Regions from separate parts of the Homo sapiens genome. Here region 2 is linked to region 1. A link means that fine-mapping ties the variant in region 1 to the expression of a gene that starts in the linked region. Tissue or cell type: stomach. Region 1 holds a variant in brackets; the other region holds the start of a gene. All regions are shown on one strand. Distances are between the middles of the regions.

The links. PIP is the estimated chance that this variant, and not a neighbour inherited with it, causes the effect.
Region 2: FBXO48 starts here. The variant in region 1 is fine-mapped to the expression of FBXO48 in stomach (GTEx, PIP 0.99).

The regions. Positions count from the first base shown.
Region 1 is chr2:68,683,087-68,691,197 of GRCh38, reverse strand. No RefSeq gene overlaps it. Among named protein-coding and RNA genes, the nearest start is that of PROKR1, 44 kb to the right of the region's middle. The variant C/T (reference allele first, on the strand shown) is at 3,404.
Region 2 is chr2:68,463,877-68,471,979 of GRCh38, reverse strand. FBXO48 (F-box protein 48) reads left to right here and starts at 4,686. Exons shown (of 4, transcript NM_001024680.3): 1 at 4,686-4,769; 2 at 5,510-5,836; 3 at 6,802-7,140; 4 at 7,610-8,103. The coding sequence starts at 6,835. The coding sequence ends at 7,771. It overlaps APLF (aprataxin and PNKP like factor), which reads right to left and starts at 4,395. Exons shown (of 10, transcript NM_173545.3): 1 at 4,153-4,395. The coding sequence starts at 4,248. RefSeq lists a silencer at 4,111-4,320 and enhancers at 3,662-4,556, 4,557-5,452, 5,546-5,605.

The sequences.
Region 1 (8,111 bases):
AATGAGGACGAGACCTCTGGCCCCAGCTATTGGCAGAGAGTCAGGCTTATTGGTGTACTCCTGCTGGCTGGAGCATCACTGAGAGCTCACAGGCCACGTGCTGAGAGAACATCACCCTCAGCAGCACATTTGTCAGAAAGCTGTTCTCACCTGGACACCTGAATCCATTACAGGCTTTCCCCAAACCCAGCAACACTGGAGACCTGGCTTCTCTCTACAAATACTCTACCCTTCGAAATCTCAGTCTAGTGAACAAACCTTTTTCTCCATGCAGAGTCCAGGCCAGGTGTGTTGGGAACATAAGCCCCTGTCAAACACCTCATTGTACCTCCATCTGCAGAAGAGAAGCATGTTTTCCTGACCTTCCGCTGGTAATCACCATGTTTTGGGATGCATGGTTTTTCATTTTAGACATTGATGTCAATTTCAAACAAGTTATATTCCTACCACACTCCTAACAAACCATATTTTAAATTAACATGCAATATTCAGATTTTAAAGCAAAAGTGCAAGCTAAAATATTAACCTGTTAATTGGTTAATAGTTATAAGGCCTAATGACACCTTTGAATCAAAAGATATACTGTATTCTGCTTCATTTTGCAACAATACTAGGAGGTAAGAAACACTGACTATTTCCTGGGTGTCAGGTACACAGTACCTTATTTCATCTAATCCATGGTCAGCTCCTCTTTGGCTCTCGGTACTGAGGATGAGTTCTGGTCCCAGAGACCAGAGACAGCAGAGAAGACACAAAGTAACCACAGGCCTTTTTCCATTTCAGTTGGTAATACACCTCTTCGTTATGAGAGTTAATGCAAATGAGCACAATCTAAATGAAGCCCCGCGGAATTACTCAGAAAGGGGAAGGCAATGCAAGATTTCCAAAGGAGTCTTGCAGAGAGAAACAGGAGAGCCCTGGGTGGTAATAGCTATCTCATTTCCTGCTAGCACTTTCTCGCCACATCACACCACTTCTCTGTTTTTCTGCTTTATCAATCAGTAAAATGAGAGCCTCAAGACAATAAGGCCCATGGCCCAGAGATCATGATTAACTGCAAGATTCAAAATCAGCTGCAAGAGAACGAAGCTGTCACATGGGTTTCTAAAGAATATTTGCCTCTTTCACTAAAGGGAGAATGAAGGTTGCTTAACCTCTCTGTGAAATAAGTTTCAGTTCCTCTTCTATGAATGACTGGCTAAACTTCATTTTCTCTAAGACCCTCTAGTATTCAGTTCTCTTCCCACCTGCTTGGCCTAATCCTGCATGAGAGGCAATGATTGGGAGCAGGAAAAGAAGATATGTAATTTAGTTTCTGAGGAACAAGTCTTCTGGAAAGCTTTGTAATTAACCTATTTTCCCCAAAACTGATTCTCTGTCACCCTAGGACACTGACAATAAACCATACCCATGATTTATCTTCTTACCTACTTGCAGTAAAGGAAAGAATAATGAACCAAGAATTGCAAGACCAGATTCTTATCACAAATCTCAAATAACTCTGTAATATTTGCGTAAGTAGTTAACCACCCTGGAGTGCTTTCTTAATTGAAAAATAAGGGGGATCCAGGCATGGTGGTGCATACCTATAGTCTGTAAACCAAAAATAAAATTCTAAGGCCCCCCAACCATCTGAATGGGCCTCTTCTCTTGGCCAAGGGCATTCCAAAGTTAACCTGAAAATCCAGTTCAGTCCATGATGGGAAGGGGGTGCTAGACATGCTCCATTATACCCTCCTCCCTTTTGGAATTACTCATAGAAAAGACTTTTTGAGTCTGACAGGAAACATTTGCAATCTATTCTCTCTAAATCCTGCTACCTAGAGGCTTCGCTTGTGTAATAAAACCTTAGTCTCCACAACCCTTTATCTTAACCAAAACACTCTTTCTAAGTCTTTAGATAATAACTATTTCAATCAATTGCCAATCAGAAAATCTTTGGTTCTACCTATGATCTGAAAGCCCGCAGCTTCCATTTAACCTGCCTTTCTGAACCAAACCAATGTATATGTTACATGTATGGATTGATGCCTTATGTCTCCCTAAAATGTGTGAAACCAAGTTGTGGCCCAACCACCTTGGACACATATTCTCAGCATCTCCTGAGGGCTGCGTCATGGGCTATGGGTCACTCAAACCTGGCTCAGAATACGTTTTTTTCAAATATTTTACTGAGTTTGACTCTTTTCATTGACAAGTCCCAGCTGTGTGTGAGGCTGAGGTGGTGGGATTGCTTGAACCAGGAGTTCAAGGCTGCAGTGAGCTGTGCTCATGCCATTGCACTCCAGCTTGGGCAATGGAGTGAGACCCTGTCCCCTAAAAAAAAAAAAAAAGAAAGAAAATAAAAAGCAAAAGGGGGTTGGACCAGGTGGTCTCTAAGGACCCTTCCAACTGAAACTCAGCAGTGCACGTAATGTGGAAGAAAGGCATTTTCATCATCTAAAGTTCTGAAGCATTGAACTCAGCAGTGACCCAGCATGCACAGCAAATTGCCCCGGAGTAAAAATTGCTTCCTGGAAGTGTTATTGATAAGCACTTACTTTTCATACCAGGTTTATATTTCCTACAAGAATAGCTCGGTCCCTTATTTAGAATGTGATGCCAATTTCACTACAGTTATAATGTTGATTTGAGTGTAAAATTTCATGGAAAACACACTTCTTCTAATTATTGATTTTTGCTCTGCCCAGTAGCTAAGAAATAAATGAATACATGATCTCTCCTTCAACAGCCTGAGGTTTTTTAAATTAAGAAGGAGAAAATAAGAGCTCAAAAATACTTTTGAGTAAATGAATAGTAAAACATGTAATACTTTCCAAACAATTTATTTCCTGCCATTTATGTTCCACATGAAAGTGACTAAATTCATGGTTATTGCACCTCATCATAGTCCAGAAACTATAATAATAGGTTCTGGAGATACAGAAATTAAGAGATTATTATTTAGTTTGAAAAGAGAAAATAGAGTAAATGGTGAAAGGTAAGTGTATTAGTCCATTTTCATGCTGCTGATAAAGACATACCCAAGATTGGGGAATTTATAAAGAAAAAGAGGTTTAATGGACTTACAGTTCCATGTGCCTGGGAAGGCCTCACAATCATGGCAGAAGGCAAAAGACATGTCTTACGTGGCAGCAGACAAGAGAGAATTGAGAGCCAAGCAAAAGGGGTTTCCTCTTATAAAACCATCAGATCTTGTGAGACTTAATCAACACTATGATTCAATGATCTCCCACAGGGTCCCTCCCATAACACATGGGAATTATGGGAGCTACAATTCAAGATGAGATTTGGGTGGGGACACAGCCAAACCATATCAGTAAGGTAGTCATATTCAGCTTCACTTTAAAATTGATGCCATAACGCGGTGGCTCACACCTGTAATCCCAGCACTTTGGGAGGC[C/T]GAGGCGGGCAGATCACGAGGTCAGGAGATCGAGACCATCCTGGCTAACACGGTGAAACCCCGTCTCTACTAATAATACAAAAAAATTGGCTGGGCGTGGTGGTGGGCGCCTGCGGTCCCAGCTACTCGGGAGGCTGAGGCAGGAGAATGGCGTGAACCCGGGAGGCGAAGCTTGCAGTGGGCTGAGACTGCGCCACTGCACTCCAGCCTGGGTGACACAGCAAGACTCTGTCTCAAAAAAAAAAAAAAGGAAGTTTTCATACAGAATGACAAATAAATGTACTATAAAATATATTAAAGCATCTTTGAAAATGTATTTTCACTGGTTATTTTGAATTTTAGTAAACTGAGTTGAAATTGTAAATGGGAAGAAAAGGACTTAACAACATTTAAAAGAATAATCTCAAATTGACAATGGTAAATTCAGCAAAATTACTAAAACACAAAAACTTCCAACTGACTTTTATACAGTAGACTGCAACAAAGAATATAGAGAAGGAAATGCCTGCCTGGTTTAAAATAAAAATCATGTAGCATGTCTGCTCTGATTCTTTAATAGCATCATATCAATCATGTGTTGTGAAGCCGTCACACTTCTATAGTGAAACATAATTTGACACTTAACTGTATACAGTGCTTAACATTGTCATGTGTATTCTACTTGAGCATTTTGTAAATTAAACTAAACACTGCTATAGAAAAAAAAAAAATTGATGCCATAAATGTGGTTAGGTTTTAATGGAAAGTTCACATTTTTCTAGCAAATCCACAGTCATTAAGATGTTCTTTCCTGCATGTGTGGTGGGCCAGGGGCAGAACACACATGGACAGGTATGTGCCCATACGTGTTCGACGGCCCAGGTGGGACATCGGATCTATTTGGGAGGACTGTTTCAATGGAAAACTATAAAGAAGGACCACAGAAGTCGGCATCTTGTGGTAGGGGTTGTACCATTTTGTGTTCCCACTAGCAATGTATGAGAGTTGCAGTCTTCTCCACATTCTTGCTAATATAGTATTGCCAATATTTTTTAAATTTTAGACGTTCGAGTTGGTGGAAATTGCCATCTCACTGTGGTTTTATTTTTCATTTCTCTAATAACTAATGATGTTGAGAACCTTTTCTTTTTTTTTTCTTTTCTTTTTTTTAGTGTGAAAACATTAAGCAATTTTATTCCTTCTCCCATGGACATTTAAACCAACATTTCTGGACTTACTCTTTTCTCCATTTCTGGATGAAATCTCAGGCATGTGCTACTCGCTTTCTGGGTACTCTAGAAATAATCACATAGGCCCTTTTGTTTGGCATGTAAAAATCCAGTTCTGTCTAATAGATTCTTAACCAGTCGAGTTCCATCTAAGTAGAATGCTTCTCTCCTACCCTAGCTTGCTCTGTTTCCATTCAGACGCCTCTCTGTGGGAGGGCCTGCTTCCTTCCCTGGACCTTTGCATATCCCATACCAGGAGCTGTGAACTGAATGTTTGTGCCCCCAACAAAATTCTTATGTTGAAACCTAAGGCCCAAGGTGATGGCGTGAAGAAGTGGGGCCGTTGAGAGGTGATAGGGTTATGAGGGCAGCCTTCATGAATGGCATTACTGCCCTTATAAAAGAGGCTTGAGGAGGCGTGTTTCCCCTTCTGCCACATAAGGACACATGGAAGGTGCTATCTATGAGACACAGGTCCTCACCAGACACTGAATCTGACAGTGCATTGGTCTTGAACTTCCCACCCTGCAGAACTGTGAGTTTCATTTATGAACTACACAGTCTAAGGTATTTTGTTATAGCAGACTGAATAAACTAAGACACCAGACTAAGTTCTGCTCACCTTTAAGTCATCACACACAAGGGCCTGTTGGGGGATGGGGGGAAAGGGGAGGGAGAGCATTAAGACAAATACCTAATGCATGCAGGACTTAAAACCTAGATGATGGGTTGATAGGTGCAGCAAACCACAATGGCACATGTATACATATGTAACAAACCTGCAGGTTCAGCACATGTATCCCAGAACTTAAAGTAAAATAAAATTTAAAAAAAGAATACCAACAAAACAAATATATTCTCTGTCCTTGTGGAGATTATAGTATAATGAGAGAGAAACTTTTCATGTGCTAATTAGCCATTCATACATTTTCTTTTGTGAAATATCTGTTCAAGGCTTTTGCTACTTTTTATTGGGTTGGCATTTCATTGTTAATTTTTAGTAATTCTTTATTCTGGATTAAAGTTCTTGTTAGATATACGTATTACAAATTTTTCCTCCTGGTTCGTGGCTTGCCTACTTATTTACTTACTGGTGTCTTCATATGAGCTGAACATTTTCATTTCGATGAATTCTAATCTATAAAATTTTATTTTATATTATGTTTTTATGTTCTGTCCAATAAATCTATTTCTGCCCCTAAGACTGTGAAGATACTCTCCTATGTTTTCTTCTACAAGCCCTTTAGTTCTTGCTTATATTTTTAAACCTTTGAGCCATCTGAAATTAATTTTGGTGTATCTATAGAAAGAAGGTTTGAGGTTCTTTTCTTGCCATTTAGCTATTCAATTGTTCCAGGACCATTTGTTGAAAAACAAACAAACAAACAAACAAACAAACACAAGTTGCTTTTTCACATTGAATTGTTTTGGTGCCTTTGTCAAAAATTCATTGCCCGTATATGTGCGGGTCTGATTCCGGACCTTCGTTTCTGGTCCTTTGATTAAGTTGTCTGTCCTATGCCAATACCACACCATATTGATTACCATAGTTTTATGGTAAGTTTTGAAATCAAGTGGTAGGTGTCCTCCAACTCTGTTCTTCTTTTTAAATTTCTAGATCCTTCACATTTTATATACATCTTAGAATCAGCATGTCAATTTCTACAGAAAAGAGCTTGCTGGAATTTTAATTGGAATTTTGTTAAATCTATAAATTTGAGAAGAATAAGTATCATAACAAAACTGAGTTTTCCAATCCACAAACATTGGATGGTTGATTGGATGATCCACTTAATTCTTAAAAAGTTAACTCAGTGTCTTCTTTAATTTAATAACAACAGGATTTGGAGTTTCAAGTACAGAGGTCTTGCACATCTTTCCTTCCTAAGTAACAAATGGGTTTTAATACTATTGTAAATAGTATTGCTTTAAAATTGTATTTTCCAGCCAGATGTGGTGGCTCACACCTGTAATCCCAGCACTTTCGGAGACCAATGTGGGAGGATCATGTGAGGCCAGGAGTTCAAGACAAGCCTGGTCAGTAGAGTGAGACCCCCATCTCTACAAAAGAAATATTAATAAATTAGCTGGGTGTGGTGGCATGCACTATAGTCCCAGCTACTTGGGAGACTGAGACAGGAAGATTGCTTGAACACAGGAGGTTGAGGCTGCAGTAAGCCATGATCGCATCACTGCACTCAAACCTGGGAAACAGAGCAAAACCTTTTTACTTCTTCTTTTCCAATCTTTATGCCTTTTTAAATATCGTTATTGCCTTATTAAACTAGCAGAACTGTAGCATAATGTTGAATGGAAGTGGTAAGAGCAGGCAGCCTTGTCATGATCCAGATTTAAAGGAAAAACATTTATATTTTATCTAGGTTTTTAGTAGGCACTCCTTATCAGGTTAAGGATGCTCACTTCAATTACTTCAATTACTAATTATTTATTCGTTAATGTGGTGAATTATGCTGGTTGTTTTCCAAGTGTTTTGCCAATCTTGCCATCCCAGGCTAAATGTCATTGTTGTGATTTTACATATGCATACACATGCACACACACACACATATATATTACTGGATTACATGTAATACATATATACATTCAAATATATTTTAATACAATTGAATATATTACTGTATCCAGTTTTCTTAGATCTTATGAAGAAATTTTTCATCTAAATTAATTAAGAATATTAGTCTATAATTTCCTTTCATTGTAATATCTTTGTCAGGTTTTGGTATCAATGTTATTCTAGCCTCATAAAACTATTTGAGACAGAGATTTTGTTACTGCTATTGGTGGTGGTTGTTTTTATGAGGGAGGGGGCGAATGAGTTTTGATTGCAAACCTAGTGTTCTAAATAGATATGAAGTTATTAAGATTTTCAGCTGGGTGTAGTGGTTCACACCTGTAATCCTAGCACTTTGGAAGGCTGAGGCAGGAGGATCACTTGAGCCTAGAAGTTCAAGACTGGCTTGGGCAACATAGTGAGACTGCATCTCTACAAAAAAATTTTAAAAATTAGCCAAGTGTGTTGGTGCACACCTTAGTCCCAGCTACTCAGGAGGCTAAGGTGGGAAGTTTGCTTGAACCCAAGAGGTGAAGGCTATGGTGGGCTATGATCTTGCCACTGCACTCCAACTTGGACAATAGAGAATGTCACTGTCTCAGAAAAAAAAAAAGAAAGGAAGGAAGGAAGGCAAGCTACTAAGATTTTCCATTTTTTGTGTGTGTAAGTTTGTTAAGTTGTATCTTGCTAGAAATTCATTCATTTTATCTGAATTTTAAATTTTATTAGCATAAAATTGTTCATATTACCCCCTCTTTTTAATAAATATAGAATCTTCACTGATATCTCTTGTTTCAATCCTGGTATTGGTTATTTGTATTTTTCTTCTCTGTCTTGCTGAGGATGTATCAATTTATTAATCTTTTCAAGGAACAAACTTTAAATGTGTCCATTTTTCAGCCTTCTTTTTATTTTAAAATTTGTTTTT
Region 2 (8,103 bases), 220 kb after region 1:
GTATTTCTTAAATGTATTTGATTGATGTCTCATGCCTCCCTAAAATATATAAAAACCAAGCTGTACCCTGACCATCTTGGGAACATGCTCTCAGGACCTCCTGAGGGCTGTGTCACGGGCCATGGTCACTCATATTTGGCTCAGAATAAATCTCTTGAAATATTTTATAGAATTTAACTCTTCATCAACAGACTCATGGTATTTAACCAAAACTTTTAATAAAAATGTGACCTTTTAAAAATCAGTGATTATATCTAAAAATTCAAATTTCTTACTATTCTTAAAAAAACAATATGACACTGTTACCAACTGGGAATAGGGGAAAGTAGCAGGGATTGCATAGAGACCCTCTCCTTGTGGCCTTCCCAACACTGAGGCAGAACTGTTGTCATTTATCACTGTCCCTGTGTTGTTTTTCTTCTTCCCTCCCACTTCGCTTACTCCAAGTGTCAGCCTGGCGCCAGTCCCCATGTGAGGTTGTAGCCTTATTTAGTTACTAATACTTGTTTATTTGTCTCTTAACCCTACAAAACTATAAGTTTCTTGAGAGCAAAGACTTGTTTCTCATTCACCTTTATTTCTCCTATACTCCCTCCCATCCAACCATAGTATATATTTATCAGCTATTTCCTGAATTTAGCGAATTATCAATCAACAAAACAGGAAAAATGTTAAAACTTAATTCATTATGAATGCTACTCAAGATTTAGCAGTTGGTAGGACTGCATCTTTACTATATTTAAATTCACTTCAAAACTCAATGATAACCCTTTTTCATATCTAAGTCACAATTAGGCTCTTTTTGAGGGTAGAGTGAATGAGAGGCTGAGATGCCGAAATGGAAGGAAGAAATCACGTGTTAAAGGCCTACTGTGTGCTAGGCACTGGTTGTAGGCTAAATAATAAAATGAGGGAAGGGCAAATCTAGAAATAAAAGAAACGTAAGGGAAGAAACCTATGTTGGAGCAGGTAGGAACAGCATTCCAGGACAGCCAGGATTCTGCAACAAGCAGTTAAAAGTATAGAGCTGCCAGGTCAGGGGATGGTTACTTTGTGTAAACTTTGTAGAACATTTACAACATTCTTAGAAGTGGTGAACTGATGCCACCTGAAGAGTCTATACTGAAGCCTATGACCTTCCCTGTTCCCCCAACTGAGGACTCTTCTCCTTTTAATCAAAGCAGTCAATTTAATTACATCTACATTGAGAAAGTATCACTAGATATCTTTTGCTATCTTGTTTCCTAGGAGGAAAATAGATCATAAAGAAATGTGTCATATAATCCCTGCTGTCAAAACAAAATAAGAAAAATCTGAAATCAGAAATAGTAGATTTCATTTAAGAGTGTAACAGCTTTAATTAAAACCCATAAAGCAAATACTTTGGCCTAACAGTGCTTGACATGTCGTACTGTAAAACCCTTTTAAATTAAATTTCTTAAGATAATGGTAGATTCACATGTAGTTGAAAGATATAATATAGAAATATCTCTTGTACCATTTATCCAGTTTCCCCTAATGGTAACGTCTTACAAAACTATAGTACAATATATCAACCTAAGATATTGATACTGACACAGTCCAGACAAAGCACATTTCTATCACCACAAATATCCCTCATGTTGCTATTTTATAGCCATATCCATTCCCTTCTGCCCTGCTGCCTAATTTTTTAACCTTTGGCAACCACTAATCTGTTCTCCATTTTTGAAATTTTGCAATTTCGCAATTTCAATGATGTTATATAAATGGAATCACACAATATGTAATCTTTTGGATTGGCTGTTTTAACTCAAGTTCTCTGAAGATTAATCCTGCTGTAAAACCTTCTAACTGATGCCAATCATGGAGCAGAATCAAAATCTAGTAAACAAAGACCTGGGGTTCTCTGATGACTCACATGAAAGCAAAGGGAACAAGAAAGATTAAATTTCATTGTCCTTTGTTCTCTGTGACAGGTTTCTCTGTTGTGTTTTCCTACCACCATAAAAATACAAAACCATTCTCATTGTCAAACTGTTTTACTACCAAGACTATTTTACACAGTCAGATTATAAACTTTTATGTTTGTGTGGCCATCAAGGTTTGTGAAGCTTGTCTCAGAAAAACATGCCCAATTAAGAAAGTTCAAAATCATCCTTATTTATATTAATCGTTTCCGATTCCAATTTACAATGAACTTACTGAGTTTTCCACTTAGAACTCAGTCTTCGCTCTCTCACAATACAAAAATAAATCTCACTGGAATTGCTGTTGTTGGAAACAGGAGCCCTTATGTTGTGTTTTAACCAGTGCAGAGAAGAATCGAGTGCATCTGTCAGCTCCAAAATCGAAAAAACTACAAGGCGATTTGTTTGTTCTCCAAATTTTTCCTTTAACACACTTAGGATGTCATTCATAACCACTTCTGATACACGCCAACCTTGGCAAAAGAATCTCATCCCTGAATGTTATTTCAAAAGGAAAAGCAAAATCTTGACCAGGTAATTGCCCAGCTTTCACTCCTTACCATTTTTAAAAACAGATACCAAATAGGCTCATCTCACATTAGCAAGTCGACAACACAAAGAACAAGCTACAAATAATGAAACGGTCTGCAATCTGTTGCCATGTTTCTAAACCACGGCCCTAAAATTCATCCACCTTTTAACCAGACCCACAGTACTCTACTGGTGACAATTTCTTAAGCAAGTCAAAACTCGTTAGTCACCAGACATATGATTACTAGATTAAGCACATACTCTTAAGTTTCAAACCTACGAATTTAAAAGAAAAATAAAGCCTCCAGACAGTTCCTTCCAGTGTTTGTATAGGCCAACAAACGATGAAAAAAATAGAAATGATGTTAAATATTTAAATAATCACTTGTCCAGTAAAAAAATGAACAGCAATTGAATATCTACTTCCTCAATAACCTTACCACATGCACATGTGCATGTACACAACACACAACACACAACACACACACACACACACACACACACACACACCCCTTTAGGACCAGCTTCCATAATACAATCTTAAACTACCACTCCTTTCCCTGCTCCCAGAAGGGACCTAAGGCAAGTACCAATGGTTCCATTTAGACTCTGGAAGTTAACCAGGACAACAGTACACACTCCTTACTCCTTGGTGTTAGCTCACTGACACAGGTGTCTCCCCGGTCCCAAGAGAAAACTCCTAAAGGGTAGGGACCCATGTTCCATTCATCTTTGTATGCCCCACAGTGCTAGAATCTGCAAAATGTTCTACACAGTGAGCACCAAACAAGAAATGTTGAATGTTAAAGAACAAAATAGAAAACTAGATGTACTTAAGAGATCTATAGAATTCCAGAATGCAATATGCAAATGTTCTTATTCCTAAACCTCTCCCAAAGAAGGTAGAGAATATTTAGCTTTGTGGCATTATGTGTCCAAAAGCTTATGTATGGACTTTAAATAATGTATGTATGGCTCAATTTTCTCATCTGAACAATGAGGATAATAAAAATAGCTAACTGATACGGTCTTGAGACAGTTAAAGATGTTGGTATAGGTAATGTCTCCTTAGACCAATGACACGAACGCTATACACATTACTTATGAAGGGTTAGCTACTCATTTTACTGGAAATAATAAATAATATAAATAAATAAGGTCCACACAGCTCTGCAAAGGAGACCAAAGGTTAAAAGAAATTAGCCTAGAAGACGTAATATCACAGTTTGGCAAACTTTTCTGTAAAGGACCAGACACTACTGTAAATATTTTAGGCTTTACAAGACAAGCCGCAATACCCTCAACCCTTGGAGCAACTATTCCCCCTGAAAAATTAGTAGATTTTTTGTTTACATTTTACATTTCAGAATTTAAGAATCATTCTTAGTTCATGGGGCCATACAAACATAGGCTGGATTTGGCCCCCAGGCACTAGTTTGCCAATCCCTGGATAAGATAATAATGGTAATACAGTCAGTGTTTTAAAAGCAACATAAAGAAATGTTTGTGAATTGGCTTAAAGGTAACTGAAAAACGTGCGGCCCCAAACTTCTAAAATCCGGACCGGCGGACCAGTGCGGTGGGGAAACCGGCCAGGACTAGGGCCGGTCTTCAGGAGCCGGCGCGGAACTCCACGGCTCTCGGGGTCCGCTAAGCCCCCGCCCACACTTACTCCCAGCAGCGGCCCGCGGCCGATCACCGTCTCCCCGGGCGCCAGGGCCACCCGGGGACCGCCGTCCCGCGGCTGCAGCTCGAAGCCCCCGGACATGGCGGGCAAGGATTAGGCCCCTTCGCCAGGAGACTGGCCCCTCCGCTGTTTCCGCCCTCCACAGACACGCGCGGGGCAAGCCCACGCCCTGGGAAAAAACACCGAGGGAGGGCCTCAAAGGCTCCCCGCGGCTGCGCCGGTCCTCTCAGAGCCCGGCCCCAGCGCAGCTTCACGAGTCCCGCCCCTCCACGCCTACTAATGACGCAACCGGGGATTCCCCAGTCTCGCCGCCTCAAAACTACTGTTTAAAAACCCCGGCTTATTCCCCAACACCCTTTTCACCTCCCTCCCATCTTGGAGGACGCCGGGCCTTGTAGTCCTGGTGGCTTTCTTCACTTCCTTTCCCGAGCGGAGACGCCCTGGAAAAAACTACCAATCCCCAAAGGCACTGCGCGCCCCTCTCGGCGCCTGCGCGAGTTCTGAGCAGGGCGGGACTCAGGTGGGCGGGATGCGAAGAGCTATGGGGAAGGATTCGAATTCCGGTGGATTTAAATCGCGGGAGGAGAAGCTACCGCGGCCTAGTAGGTAGAAGGGTCTTCCGTTCCCGTTGGCTTAGGTGTCTACGCTCCCGGGGACGCGGCCTGGACGCAAGCTCAGCCTTCCCTCCGCGGCCTGGAGCCGCAGTGACAGTCAACGCTGACGGTTGTTGTCACTTGTCAGTGCCCTGTGTTCTTGGGTTCCAGCAGCTGCAACCCGCGCGGGACACAAGGAGGGTGGCTCAGACGGGACGTGGGGTGATTAGCCCTGACCCGCGGGATTTGGACGGAGTGGGGCTCCCCGCCCCTCCGACTGCGCTGCCGCCGATCTATCCCTCCGAATGATAGTTGAAAGGGGGACGAGCTTTTACTTCACTTGAGAGAGAATTCAGGAAAGCTCAGTTCATAAAGGAGAAAGGGCAGAAGAGGGGTCGTTTCCAGGCATCCAGGCGAACCTGGACGTAGAAGAAAGATTCCTAGTGGGATTTTAGAAACTCGCAAAGGTATCCCCTGCTGTGAAATTCAAAAGCCTTCATTCCCGTTACAGGAATTCCACAAGGGGACGCATTTTATTCTCCCAGTAAGATCCTGGGAGAAGTGGATAAACACACTGTAACGTTTAAATGCACTGTAACGTTTTCCTAATGTGAGATTCTTTTCAAGAACGTTGTGGTTTGGCTTTGGTTTGTATTGGTGGTGGGAGGGGCCAAGGTGCATGGCAAAAACTTGCTCTTGACTCACCCGTTTTTACGTTTGCTTTCTTACTTCTCCTAACCCTCAAGAAGAAGACCTCTGTTGAACACAGACTGCAGTTCCAGCCACCACAGCTAATCTGGATCATGAATGGGAGCCACCGTGGTCTTGGCAAGTCCGAAAACATAGCTGAGTAGCTCGTCTAGAAAAGAGATTTGTGTTCAGCTGAGTTAAAAGAAGTATTTACCTCAAACCTCTCCTCTTGCACAACCAACCCCCGTTATAAAAGGAAGTGCAAAATGGAATAAACTGATTTTAAGTGAATACAAGCTGTCTTTATATACAAAAGTAACTCAAGGATGGTGATGTACCCAGTCATGCTTTCAACTGATTTGGGAAGCCTACACCATTCACCTTAGGTAAATTAGCTGAAACTGAGCTTTAAATCTGGGCTTCAAAGAGTCACATACTGTACCTAGCTGAGTTCTAAACATTGTTTACAGTTGTCACTCACTGTTGCTTGATGTCTTCAGTGACTATTATCCTTAGCTTGTAATTATGCATGTAGGATAGCTTCAAGGGGCCATTTCTAAAACACTACTCTTATGACTGAGTTGAATATTTGAGACTTTGTTTCATAATCCAGATCTCATCTTCTTGTCCATTTCAGATAGTAGTTGTGTCAAATGTAAGCACCTACCTACCTATAAGATACAAGTAGATAAAATTCTTATATAAACAACTAGAAGTCCAGCAAGTTTATGATTAAGTCACAAATTGCAAATTAATGATGAGGCATCAGTTCCCATGTACAACAAGTATTCAGGAGTTTAATAGGATTGACTCATATACATTTTCAAAGGTACAAAAGTACCGGGTATGGTGGCTCATACCTGTCATCCCAGCACTCTGGGAGGCTGAGGCAGAAGGATTGCTTGAGGACAAGAGTTCAAGACCAGCCTGGACAACATAGCAAGAACCATTTCTCCGTAAAACAGTTTTTGGTTTTCTGTTTTTTTTTTTTTCTTTTTTTTTTTTTTAAAGAGGGGCGGGGTACGCTGAGTCAAGAGAATCGCTTGAGGCTGGAGTTTGAGGCTGCAGTGAGCTATTATGACACATCTGCACTCCAGCCTGGGTGAGAGTGAAACTAACATGTTGGGTGCCTCCCATGTGCAATTCAGATGTAGCAAGACTAGATATTTTACCCACTATCACTGTTAATCCTTGCAAGAACTTTCAGGAGAGCGGCAGCATTGGCCCATTTTACAGATTGAGAAGCTAAAGTCAAGAAAGAGTTCTTAAATTATACCCAAAAAGCATCTGACTTAAAGTAGGATTTATACTCCTATTTGGAGACTGAGCATGTTTAAATTTTGCCTTTTAGGTTACATATGAGGATAACTTAAAACATTAAGCTATGCATAAAAACTCCAAGAGAAACAATAATTTAAGAGTTTCTCACACAGAAGCGAACTCTGTGGATGCTGAGAAGGAAAAAAATGAGAGTCAAAACAACTTTTTTGAACTGCTGCCTGCAGAAATCACTTTTAAAATTTTCAGTCAGCTGGACATTCGGAGTCTGTGCAGGGCTTCATTGACATGCAGGAGCTGGAATGACACAATAAGAAACAGTGACTCTTTATGGAAACCTCACTGCATGACTGTAAGAGCTGTGTGCCGAAGAGAAATAGATGATGATCTAGAAAGTGGTTATTCCTGGAGGGTAAGTTTAATCTTTGCGATCTGCAGTGTTGTTGACAGCGTTATGATAGCAGGTTTGCGCCAATTCTAACTTCTGCTTGGAGGAGTCAGAATTACATATGCAGAATAACACAGACAGTGTGTTGACTCTTGGAAATGAGTTAAAGTTATTAGTCTTTTCCTGCTAACCACACTGTTTCCACACTATCTTTCATTTATCCTTTTGCATTTTTAAAATTCTAAATTCGGGAATTTTCCTGCGTTAACCAGAAGGGAATTAGCTCCTTCTTTCCACTTCACCTTATGCCACTCAGTATAAATACACATATACATACACACACGTACACAGACACATACATTTATTAATGTACGTATATATAAATGTAAATACTCTTTTTTTCAGCCCTGTCAATCTGCTTCTCTTGCTTTAAACACATTCACTAACCAACCACCTACTACAGTCTTTTTTAACGGTGATTTACCTCTTTCAGGTGATACTGCTGAGGAATTACCAGAAGAGTAAAGTGAAACACGAATGGCTAAGTGGCAGATACAGCAACATTTGTTCTCCCATTAGCCTACCAGAAAAAATCATGTACCCAATGGATGCAGATACATGGGGGGAAATTCTAGAAGCAGAACTGGAAAGATAAGGGGAAAAAAAATCACAAATCTCAGGTCTTTGAAAGTTTAAAACTTAAATGACTCTTAGGTTGCAAAAGCGATATCTTTATTCGTTCATTTTGTTGTTCACCTTTTTAAAAGAAAATGAAATGGAACTATTATAAAAGTAAAGCTTTATTTTTGTTTTGCACTTTAGTAAAATTTTTCTGGTTTTATTGTAATGTGGAAAAATCATGAAATGTTATTTTTATAAGAAATAATATACTGATAGAGTGATTTCCAAATACAATGTTTCATGTATTTGTGTTAATATATTTGCAATACTAAATGTAAGAGTGATTTGTATGTTCAGCTTAATGAT